Linked DNA regions of Homo sapiens: region 2 is linked to region 1. Evidence: fine-mapped QTL for protein levels in blood plasma. A gene starts in region 1. The other region holds a variant in brackets. All regions are shown on one strand. Distances are between the middles of the regions.

Region 1 (5,369 bases):
CCACTTTAAAATTTGGAGGGTTTGCGGCTTTCATTTTCTTAGCTAGAGCTAATAGGATTTTCTTTAAATGTCAGGTCCCTCCTCAAATCGTCAGCTATTTATGTAGCAGTGATGTGTTTTTTACTGCCTGCTTGCTGCAGCCAGGACACCATGAAAAGTTTGCTCCCGTAAGTCAGGGTGGAAAAGCTGCCTGGTACACAACATCCCTGTCAGATGGAAACCGCCTGCAATCCTTCCCCCAAGAGATAGCAGATTTTCAGCTTCTTCCAAAAAGAGCAGTGACAAAACTGAACTTTCAAATAAAAATTTTTGCTAAAGCTGTTACTGCGCCTGCAAGGAAGTGTCACGCAATAGTATTCACGACTTGCCGGTGAATTTTAAGTCCTAAACATGGAATTTCACATATAAGTGGGAGGTGATATCAACCGCTGGTGAAGACTACGCTTGATCCAGTTGTCTGAACACTCTGAGCAAGGAAACAAATGAAACCTCGCTGGCAAAAAGTCACTGCCAGCTTCCAAAGCTTCCAAAGAAGGCGGTCTTGTTTCAAGCTGGCTTTAGGCATCCAGGTCTATGGGTTCCGTTCCTGAAACTAAGGTCAGGATGAGCAGCCTCATTGGAACCATAAATCAACAATCGACTGAAGAGAGGAGCTTCTTCCTACTTTCTCATCGGGGACGTATTAAGTTCTAGGATAGGAAATCACAAAAGGCACTGATGATAAAGTCAGTGCAATTTGCTGAGTCCTGAATGCTTTAGAAATAAAATGAAGTGTGAAGTAAAGACAATTTTTCAGAAAGGTGCCTACCTCGTATCAAAAATATCATTCAGACCCCAGGTTTGGACATTTGCCACATGTCCCCTCACCTGTGGGCCACAACTATAGTGGGGTGGAACACGCTCCCTGCCAAGCAGGGAAAGAGCGGGGCCAAGGGCTAACATTCTAGAGGCTTCCCCAGCCACCTCCCAGAAAGGTGCTGTAGCCACACCCTCCAATGCCTGGATAGGAAAAGCCAGGACAGCCTCACTTCACCCCAACATGGAATTCCTTCCCAAGCCCTCTGCTCCACTCAGTGTCTGCTTCCTGGCTTCTCTCGACCATGAGTGAGGAAAGGAGAGAACTAAACCTCTGGGTAGCAAGAAACCCCCTAAACAAAGAAGTCCAGACAGGCAGCTGTTCCTACATCCTGATCTTTGTAAAAGCCACGCCTCCCCACCCAGGCTTTCATCCTCAGCTACAAGCCCACTTCAGAAAGAAGAGCATACAGGTCCCCTCCTTCAGCGCCCTCCACCCCCAGGAGGTGGCCTGAGCAGGGCGGCCAGCCCCGGTATTCCGGTCACGGAACCGATGCCCCCGCCCCACGGTCCACCTCCCTTCTTTCTCGGTTCATTGGTAGAGTCTTAGTGAGCCCAAAGCAGTTTTCCCAACGAGATGTGAGTTATTTGGGATCCTCCGTCACTGGCTTGTCTGCTCTCCTTCAATGGGGAAGGATTTCACTGCCATCTCAGGCACTCGCTCCCTGGCCTGGGCAAGGAATTCCGCATCTCAGAGCCCCTGGTTGCTCATTTTGAAAACCAGGAAACTACTGCATCAGTGGCTTCTGACCAAAAATCTCTTCCATTATCTTTAGCCCAACAAAAACCTCAGAAGTCCCAGTAATGTCATCAACGGCCACCCACTCAGTTTTCAATATAGTTTTGCTTAGGAGCAATGTAACTTTGATTTTAAAGCCATTTCGGTTGTTTTTTACAGCATTAAGAATGGGACCCTGGGGAGCTGGGGGATCCCAGGTTGAGCATCCACCATCCCCGTGAGCTCTGAGCACCCTGCAGCTCTAGCACCCTGTGGTCCTCGCCGGGGTGAGCTGTATGTGGGGAGAGAAGCCAGTCAGCCGGGGCCACAGCCCTGCCTCCCCATCCAGCACAGCAGACTCCCCTGTGCTCAGAGGGGTTTGCTCCTGGGGTCTGCACCGGCCTCGAAACTGGCTCCTGGGGCTTCCTGTGGAAGCAGATTTTTCTTTAACCACTCCCTAGTCCCTCCCAGTGACCCCACCCATACTTCAATACCCGTTCATTATCCAACATAGTAGGCCCCTTGAAACAGGTTCCCCAAACAGGCTGGCCACTGTCAGCGAACGTGTCCATCCTCAGCAAGAGAGGGCCCGAGCCCCACCCTGCATCCTCCGGGCCAGAGAACAGCCCTCGGGGCCTCCCAGCTCGGCACTGGCCTCACCTCTGTGCAGCATGGGCTGGCCCTGCAGCCCCAGGGGCCCTGCCTTAGACACTCAGCATGCTGCCCAAATGCCCAATTCCTTCTTCTCCTCTGACCCCTGCAACTCCTTTAAGCAACCCCAAGGGACAAAGTCTCCAATAGAGACTTCAGGTTCCTGGAAAGACGAAAGCTTGACGGCAATGACTGAGCGACCCTTTACTTGGCCCTGATCCTGAGCACCAGAGTTACTCCAATCTTGTGAAAGCAGCAAATGTGCTCCACCAGGACCTTCCCATGGGCGGCCCTGGGCAGAAAACCCATGCAGGTTGTTGCACCCTGACCTAGTGTCACCACCCAGAGAGCTCAGAGAACATCTCCCAGCGGAGCCGCCCGGCAGGGAGCTATGCTAGTCCTCAGCAAAGACGCTTCTGCAAACAAAGCGGATCCCGAATGGGTTTTAGAAGGCGGCAGTAACTTAAATAAATCATGGGCCGAAACACACTGCCGCCCGGAATGCACAGGGCGCGTGTAGCAGCCACAGACACGCGGTGGAAAAGTGCTCACACTCTTAGGCAATCATGACCTTAACCAATTTAAGGAAATCCCATTGCCATAAAGTGAGAAAGAAAAATCAGCGGAATCTTCCAGAGACCTAAAACATGTACAGAAAACTGGCGATCAGCATGAACGTAAGAGCCACTAACGCTACCTAGAAAGGATCACTTCAGGTTAAGAGCATTTCCTTCTAGCCCCAAACCTGGAAAAACAGAAGAGAAATCACACTTACCCCTGAGCAAACCTGAAGGCGTGTGTCCCTGGGCTCCTCGATTCAATTAGGTTTGAATAGGATGCATACTTTTCCCACTCACTGCGTCTCTTTTTCTTTTTGCAGCCTTTCTCCACCAAAAAAGTGGAGACTCAGAGCTGCGGAGGAAAACTCTTGCAGTCCTTGCAGGAGGCTGGAGCCCAGGAGAACTGAACGGCCTTTGGTGGAAGACTGAGCTCCAAACTGGACTGGGGCCAGGGATACCAGTCAGGGCTTCCTCCAGCTCCTCCTCCTCCTCCTCCTCCCTCCCGGACCCCTCCTCTCCCCCTCCTCACTGCAGAACTGACCCAAAACTGTAAATGAAACCAGACTCCTCCACTCTGTTTCTTCTGGCCCCCGCTCAGGCTGATGTCACCCTCTGAATTCTGTCTTCACCCTACAAGCGTTTAGCTGGACTCCTGCAAGCCCCAACTCTTAAAAAAAAAAATTGACCACTCCTACTCGTCACCTTTTGGGCTGGGCCCTTGGCGTCAAAAAGAATAAATTTTGGAATTTCTTCGTGGGTATCCATGGTTTTCCTGCAATGTTTTCCAACACCATCTGAAAGGAAAACAGGAAATGCAGTCCCCCGCTTACCCTCACCACACCCTCCCATTTCTTCTTGAAGTTTCTGAATTGAGACTTCTACTAATAACTTCCCCCTTCAAATAGAAAAACCAGCAATTAAAATCGCCTTGGTTTTCTGTTAACCAAAGCTCTGTTCACCGGCAAAAAAAAGGAGGCTACATTTCTCTTAATTTCTATATCTAATGATTCTGATTGTGGCGCTTATAGGCCCATTCTAGGCACAGACGGGGTAATAAAAATGGTTATCTTGCCAAAGCTTCGGGAAAATACTTGAGTAAGAACTTCTGTTTCTAGAAAGCTTTGCACATTTCAAAACACTTCAATATACATTCTCTCCTTTATCACAAACATCAACACCCTAAGCCCTTTTAAATAGAAAGATGTCTTCTTTTATTAGGTGAAATTGTGGTCCCATTTTACAGATGAAAGAAACAGGCTGGGCACGGTGGCTTATGCCTGTAATCTCAGCACTTCGGGAGGCTAAGGCAGGCAGATCACAAGGTCAGGAGTTGGAGACCAGCCTGGCCAACATGGTGAAACCCCTACTAAATCTCTACTAAAAATATAAAAATTAGCCAGGCATGGTGGCAGGCGCTTGTAGTCCCAGCTATTTGGGAGGCTGAGGCAGGACAATTGCTTGAACCCAGGAGGCAGAGGTTGCAGTGAGCCGAGATGGCGCCACTGCACTCTAGCCTGGGCAACAGAGTGAGACTCCAAAAAAGAGAAAAAGGAAAGAAAGAAAAGAAATGAAAAGAAAAGAAGAGAAGAGAAGAGAAGAGAAGAGAAGAGAAGAGAAAAAAGAAAAAAAGAAAAGAAAAGAAGAAAAGAAAAGAAGTTCCGAGAGAGTAAGTGACATCGTCATTGTCCAGTCTGGGTTAGTAACAGAGCTCAAATGACAACCCAGCTTTGGCCATCCCCAAACTTCTCACTGCTCTCCCATCATGTGGTCCTTATGAAAAGTCCATTAATGTGAAATATCAAGAGACATCCGAAAGGTTCTTTTTGACTGAGAGATCCTTCCAAACCAAGTTTGAAGAGCAAAGAAATCATTAACTCCTTTCCATGGATTATCTCCCTCCAATTTAGGGAAGAAAGGAGACAGCACCCCAGAGAGAATGCCTGCTCCCCTCTGCAGCTCCAGGGCTCCCTTCCTCTCCCATAAAGAAGCCCAACCCATCTCTAAACCAAAGGGCTCACTTGCAGAGCACTGGAGTAGGGAACAAGGATGGAACCTGAATTATGGGGTTCTTAGGTGAAGACACGCTGAGCAGAGGCTCCGAGTATAGAACCGCGCTGCCTGCATGACATGTAGAAGGACAACACGCCCCTCCAGCGGCATCCAATTCTCTGCCCTCATCCTCTCTGCACAGTGCAGGCGTTGACTCAAGCCCCTACAGAGACCGGGGATACTTGCTGCCACCCCCTTGGTTAGAGTCTGCAACTTCAGCACTAAGGAGGACTATTTCTCCCAGAACATTGTCTGCTGCGAAGAAGACAATCTTTGATTACAACCCCATGCTCCAAGCAGCTCAGCAAACTGAGGTTAACTGAACAAGCACGTTTTAGGTGTTTCCACTCCACGGTTTCTTTCAAATACAAATACACTCTTTTTCGCAAAATCGCTAGGCAGATGCATTCCTTGGTATTGAAAGTTTCTATTACAGTCGACCTCGTATCCATGGGTTCTGCATCCATGGATTTAACCAACTGTGGTTCAAAAATGCTTTTTAAAGTAGATGATTGCATATATACTGAACATGTACA
Region 2 (5,369 bases), 89 kb before region 1:
CAGCCAAGGGACACACACAGAGAAGCAATGCATAGATAGAGTGAACCAAGAATGGCAGGGATGGGCATGCTGGCAACAGGAGGTGGAAAGGGAGAGAGGGTTCTGGAGCCCTTGGAAGTGAGTCTCCTAGTGATGGGCCCTGCCCCAGTCTATTGTAACACACCTTGAGCAGACCATCTAGGTATGTTACAAATATTGGTGTCCTACTCCTGTACCTTGGGCCTGACTACTCCCCCAAGTTCCACATGGGAGTATCTGCAGGTCTTTGCCAAGAACATTTTCTTACACTACAGAAGGCCCCTTTGCCAGTGTGCCTGCAAGCCAAGAGGACCAGAGCATGAATGCCTCAGTGACCCGTGGAAACAGGTGTATGACTACCCAAACTCCTTCAGCCCTCTGCTGGCCTACGAGGTGCAGTGCCACAGGTGCACCTCCCAGGGTTTCCCCGAGGGATTGGGCTCTGGGCACCCACAGTGGACGCTGACTATACACCTCTTAACAGTGCTCTCCCTTTGCTTGTCTCACTCCCCACTTCTCAGCCACTCAGTGACTTCCTTCACCTCCCAAATAAACTACTCACACCCATATCCTTAGTCCTAAGGGCTGCTTCCGGAGGAACCCAAAAAGTAAAACCAGATTGTGATGCTCATTTTAGGTCCATAGCAGATCAAGTCAATGGGGGTGGCGGGGGCAGGGATCCCTTGGGAAGTGGAGCACTCAGCCCACCGCTATGGGAGCTGGGCCCACAGCTCTCTGCTCCGCAAGTTCCTGCAAGAGGCTGGTGTTGGGTGCCTGGCAGATCCCAGGGTTGGTCACCAAGGGTCACAGCTCAGAGCACACTGACCTGAGCACCCCATGGTAGCTGCCGAGATAGAAGAGGACTGGGGAGGAGGTCATGGCGACCTTGTGGGGACTAAGTGGCGCTTCTGAAGAGGGCCACACTCCTCTCTCCTTTCCCAATAGACCAACTGGCAAATTCATCCCGATTTTACATAAAACATTTCTGCTGACACCCAAGATTCCTGTAATTCTACCCTCAGCACTTGTCAGGACATATGTATTTTATCCAATAAGTTGTTTCCTTTGTAAGTGGAACTCAAGTGCCACCTGAATATGTATTTGTTGGTTTCTTGTATTATTTCTGAAGAGAGAAAAAAACAGTCTTTAAGAAAAACAAAAAAATGAAAGACCTTGTGCTTTGAGACTCCAGAAAAGGGGTTGGGGGTCGTGGGGCAACACTGAATCTCTCAGCCATTGTGAGAGGAAGCAAATCAACCCCCTGGGAAAGGATCACTGTGGAGAGGAAGACAGGAGGAGGCTGAGGCTCTGAGGGCCAACCAAGAGTCAGAGGAAAAGATAGAAGCCAGCCTGACTCTGAAAATCAGAAACACTGCCGGGACCCAACAGCAGGAACACCTTCCGCTCGGCCATGGAGCACTGGAGCATGTGGGGCTGAATCCACAAAGCGGGGGATGCTTGTCTCCAGCCGGTCTCTTTGCACACTGGCTGATAAAGCTCTTTTGCCTCCTCCACTGGAAACGAAAGGCTGTTGCACAGCTCCATGGGGCCAGAACCAAACCCAGTTTCCCCAGCCTAGGGGTGATTCTGACAATCGCTGCTATGGAAACAAGACTGCCAAGAACGTCACACCCAGGAAACTTTCAATATACTTTATTAAAAAGTTTCTTTGTATAAATTTCCTAAACATTTTAAAATTAAAATTAAATCCCCTCCCTCCAGCACACACAAAAAAAAAACACACAACATTAGAGGAATGCCAAAAATATTCTCTATTACAACTTTTTTAAATTCTTTAATTAAGGCATTGGTCCCAACGGTGCACATAGATTAAGGGATTTTGCTTCCTTCTGAACTAGATCATTTGTTAGAGGCTTCAGAAAAAGAAAATTAGCTTGAAATCTAGTCTGGGAAATTGGGGGCAGGGAATGAAAAAGTTGGTCTCTTGTTTCTCCACGATACACAGGCTTCCCATCTAAAGTCATGCTTAACTAAAAGGGAAAAAAAATGAACCAAGCAAAAGTATATAGAGTAGCCGTGACATTTGCATTATTTTCTAGACTTTACATTTGCCTGCAACAGGCATAACATGAAACTCCAGAGGGAATTTGGATTGATAGGAATGTTCACATAAACACCAGCAGTGGCTAACTGTTACACAACATTCAAAGTATTCGAGAGAACTGCCTGGAGACAGAGAGCGAGGGTCCACAGACACATTAGCACCATACTGATAGGTCATGCAGCAGGATGTTCCCTCCCGAGTTCGAGTGTAAATCAAAGCATGAAATGATACAGTGCAAGGGAATCTACACCCGGAGCTTCTACAGAGACAAGTTGGCGATGGCTGACTCCTTCTTCTTCAAGAGGTATATGATGTTGGCCACCCACGCTTAGGTTCCCATCACACTGATGACTCCGGGTTTGGCGAGCACTGAGCGTCGAGAGAGGGGGTGGGT[G/A]GGGTGAGGTGAGGAGCCGAGAGAAGAGAGGAAAAGCCACATTACTGACCCAAAAGGGCACTGTCATTATCATGACACAGTCCCGCAGCCTCTGGTTTCCATCACCTGTCCCACTTTTCTACTCAGTACCATCAAAGGCCCTCTGTGACGTTCTTGGCCTGGGGCCCCGGGGCCCAGGGATGTCTGGGAAATCTGATCCCATTCTTTTGCCCTGCACCATCTACCAGGCCTTTATACGAACTGAACTCTCCCCATTCTGGCACTGACCCCAGGCTCTGTTCAAAGTGTTTATTTTATTACCAGTTGAACTGCACAATATAATGGAGATACTGGATGGCCCCAGTGACAACATTGTTATTTATAGGAAGCAAAACTATTTAAAAGATAAATTTGTGGGGGTTGTTTATCTTTGGCGTTATCTGTAGTTGTTCATTATATTATCTTCCCAGGAATCATTTTTGGTGCAATATTTTACAAATAACAGCAACTTAGTAACATTTCTGAAGAATGACAAGGGACAATATGTTTTTAGAAACCCAAAATAGGAATTCAAAAAGACATTTCATGGGTTGTATTTGAACGTCTTCCTTATCTGAGGATACACTTTATCTTCTTTTTCACATGTATCATAATCATTGCACTTCTAATATTTTTCAAGGTGACTTATTGACCTGAATCTCTTATTTGCAGAAGCCATAAACACAAGGAAGAATCACTTACCAGGAGCGCAAACCTTTTCACATTCTTTCTGTGATCCAAATTTGTTTTCGTTTCCACCACAACCTCCATACCAGAATCTTGCACAGCTTTTGGTGTTTGGATCATAGTACCATTTTAATATGAAATCCCTGCAAGTTCCTTCGTCTTTCGGCAACTTGCATATATCTTTAATAAAAACATGAGAAAAGGATATTAATGAGAACATGCGTGTTACTCGGCTCCCAGTGCTGGGGCTGACAGTCTGATGACCCTACTGTGGCAGAAGGAAAAAAAAGAAGAGCTTCCAGGTGAAAACTCCCTTAACCTGCTCAAATCTCCATTTCCTCACTGCCATATGGACATAGGAATTGCTTACAGCCTTGTGAGAGATAGATGAAATTATATCAATGAAAGGGCTTCATAAACAGCACTCAGAATCCCAAATGCTGGCAATGGTTATTGAATAATTTTAAATGAAATGAATTGTTTTTCCCCTTTCCAATCACTGGGCCATTTGCCCTCCAAGTCCTTCCATGTTAAATCCCCAGAAAAGAAACTGAATTTTAAAACCTCAGGGTTTTATAATTCTTGGCAAAATGGAAATTCGATTCTGTTGGGATATAGTTCAAAAATAAGGCTCTACCTTTCATTACAAGCCAAGTAGACTGAAAATTAAAGGTAAAGCAGAAAAGAAAATCCTTTATGAGTGTGTGTGTGTGTGTGTGTGTGTGTGTATGCACGTATGTGTGGTAGCCAAGAGCCTTTGTGACCTGCCAAATGAAACACGTAAAACAAAGAGCTAGCACTGATGTAAAATTCATGATGGCAAAAATGTCACATAGCAGAACTATTTTGAAGACAGAGAAGCATTCTTTTCCCAGTTAAGGAAGTTTATGTTTCCAATGCACACGTCTGATGTAGCCCAGCTGCAAAGTAAAGCAAAGGTCCCCTCGACGCCTGGAGAGAAGAGTTTACAGTTCACACACAGCACGACTCCTGTTTACAGAGTTTTCTGGCAAACTCCAGATTGTTCTGGGAAAGAGAAGCATTGATGTCAACTGTTATCTGTAAGTTTGAAAACGTAAACCTTCTTTCTCCAAAACTCCCTGGAGCCAATAATTCTGCATGTTCCTGTGAGTAGCTAACAGGCTGGAATTATCCAGCTCTCCCCTACAAAGAGATGCTTCTCCATCTCCTTTGTCCCCAGCGAGGCAGGCTGCTCACAGCTGCGGAGGTGGTGAGCATCTGTGCTTCAGATAGATACCAAAAAGGACAAGGAAAACCTAAGTCTTCAGTGGATAATCATAGCTTGGATCACCCACGATGGACCAGACTCAAAGGTGCACAGGACTGAGGCTCAGAATTGGTCTAAAACATTTCCTGGTTGCTGCTGTCACCCAAATTCCAGGCTGGTGGCTGGTGGCTCCACAGTTACAACACCTCCTAGTTGCAGACGCTCTCAGGGCCCAGAAAGCCAGTGGTCCCCACGAGAGCCTTTGAAGACTCCAGGAAGTCAGAATAAAATGAAGACAATTTACAAAAACAACCTTCTTTCTCTCAAATATGCCAATAACTGAAGGAAAATGCCTGGCTGTCAAGGAAGGTCCTGGAGAGAACTGACAAGGCAAGGTAATTTAACCATCAAAATTTATTCCTCATTTACTGGTGGCTTCCCTGTTAGCGTGAGGCCGGCGTCAAATGATCTCCCTATTCTTCCTTCCTTCCCAGAGCGTTGGCCAATGGACCCTATTTGCTCTATTTTATTTGTTTCAAGTGCACTTCAGTCCTGACCATCTGTGTTTAGCTGTTCAATTCCCAGTCCCCTGGGCTCTGCTGAACCAGTCACGAGAGGTCTGCCCAGAGCCACGGACACCCAGCCCATGAGTGGCCTCACAGCAGCACACTCCACTCCCCGTCTGATTGGCTTCTCCAGCTTCCTTGGCCCTCCACCCTAGCCCTCCAGTTCCACACCACGGCACTGGTGTTTTCTGCCCTTATTTCAGTGAGAGTCACTACTGAGACCCTGTAAGATTTACTAGTGGAAAATAAGGACACTGTTACTGTGGACAAGAAGATATTTGGAAAACCAAGAGAAATATATTAGTGAGGTGAGAACCCGGCACTATTCAAAGACAAAAACCTGTACTTCTCTACTTCTGAAGCATGAAAACGGAGGATTTTATGTTCTTAAGA

Evidence for each region. A credible set is the group of variants that fine-mapping cannot tell apart. PIP is the posterior inclusion probability: the model's chance that the variant is causal. Protein levels are from the aptamer-based SomaScan assay of Sun 2018.
Region 2: its variant is the best candidate, but not a certain one, in a credible set for the plasma level of the COL6A3 protein (Sun 2018, PIP 0.53).

The regions. Positions count from the first base shown.
Region 1 is chr2:237,410,954-237,416,322 of GRCh38, forward strand. COL6A3 (collagen type VI alpha 3 chain) reads right to left here and starts at 3,211. Exons shown (of 44, transcript NM_004369.4): 1 at 3,000-3,211.
Region 2 is chr2:237,322,363-237,327,731 of GRCh38, forward strand. It overlaps COL6A3 (collagen type VI alpha 3 chain), which reads right to left. Exons shown (of 44, transcript NM_004369.4): 43 at 3,198-3,362; 44 at 1,656-2,452. The coding sequence ends at 2,412. Among named protein-coding and RNA genes, the nearest start is that of COL6A3, 89 kb to the right of the region's middle. RefSeq lists an enhancer at 2,146-3,345. The variant G/A (reference allele first, on the strand shown) is at 2,478.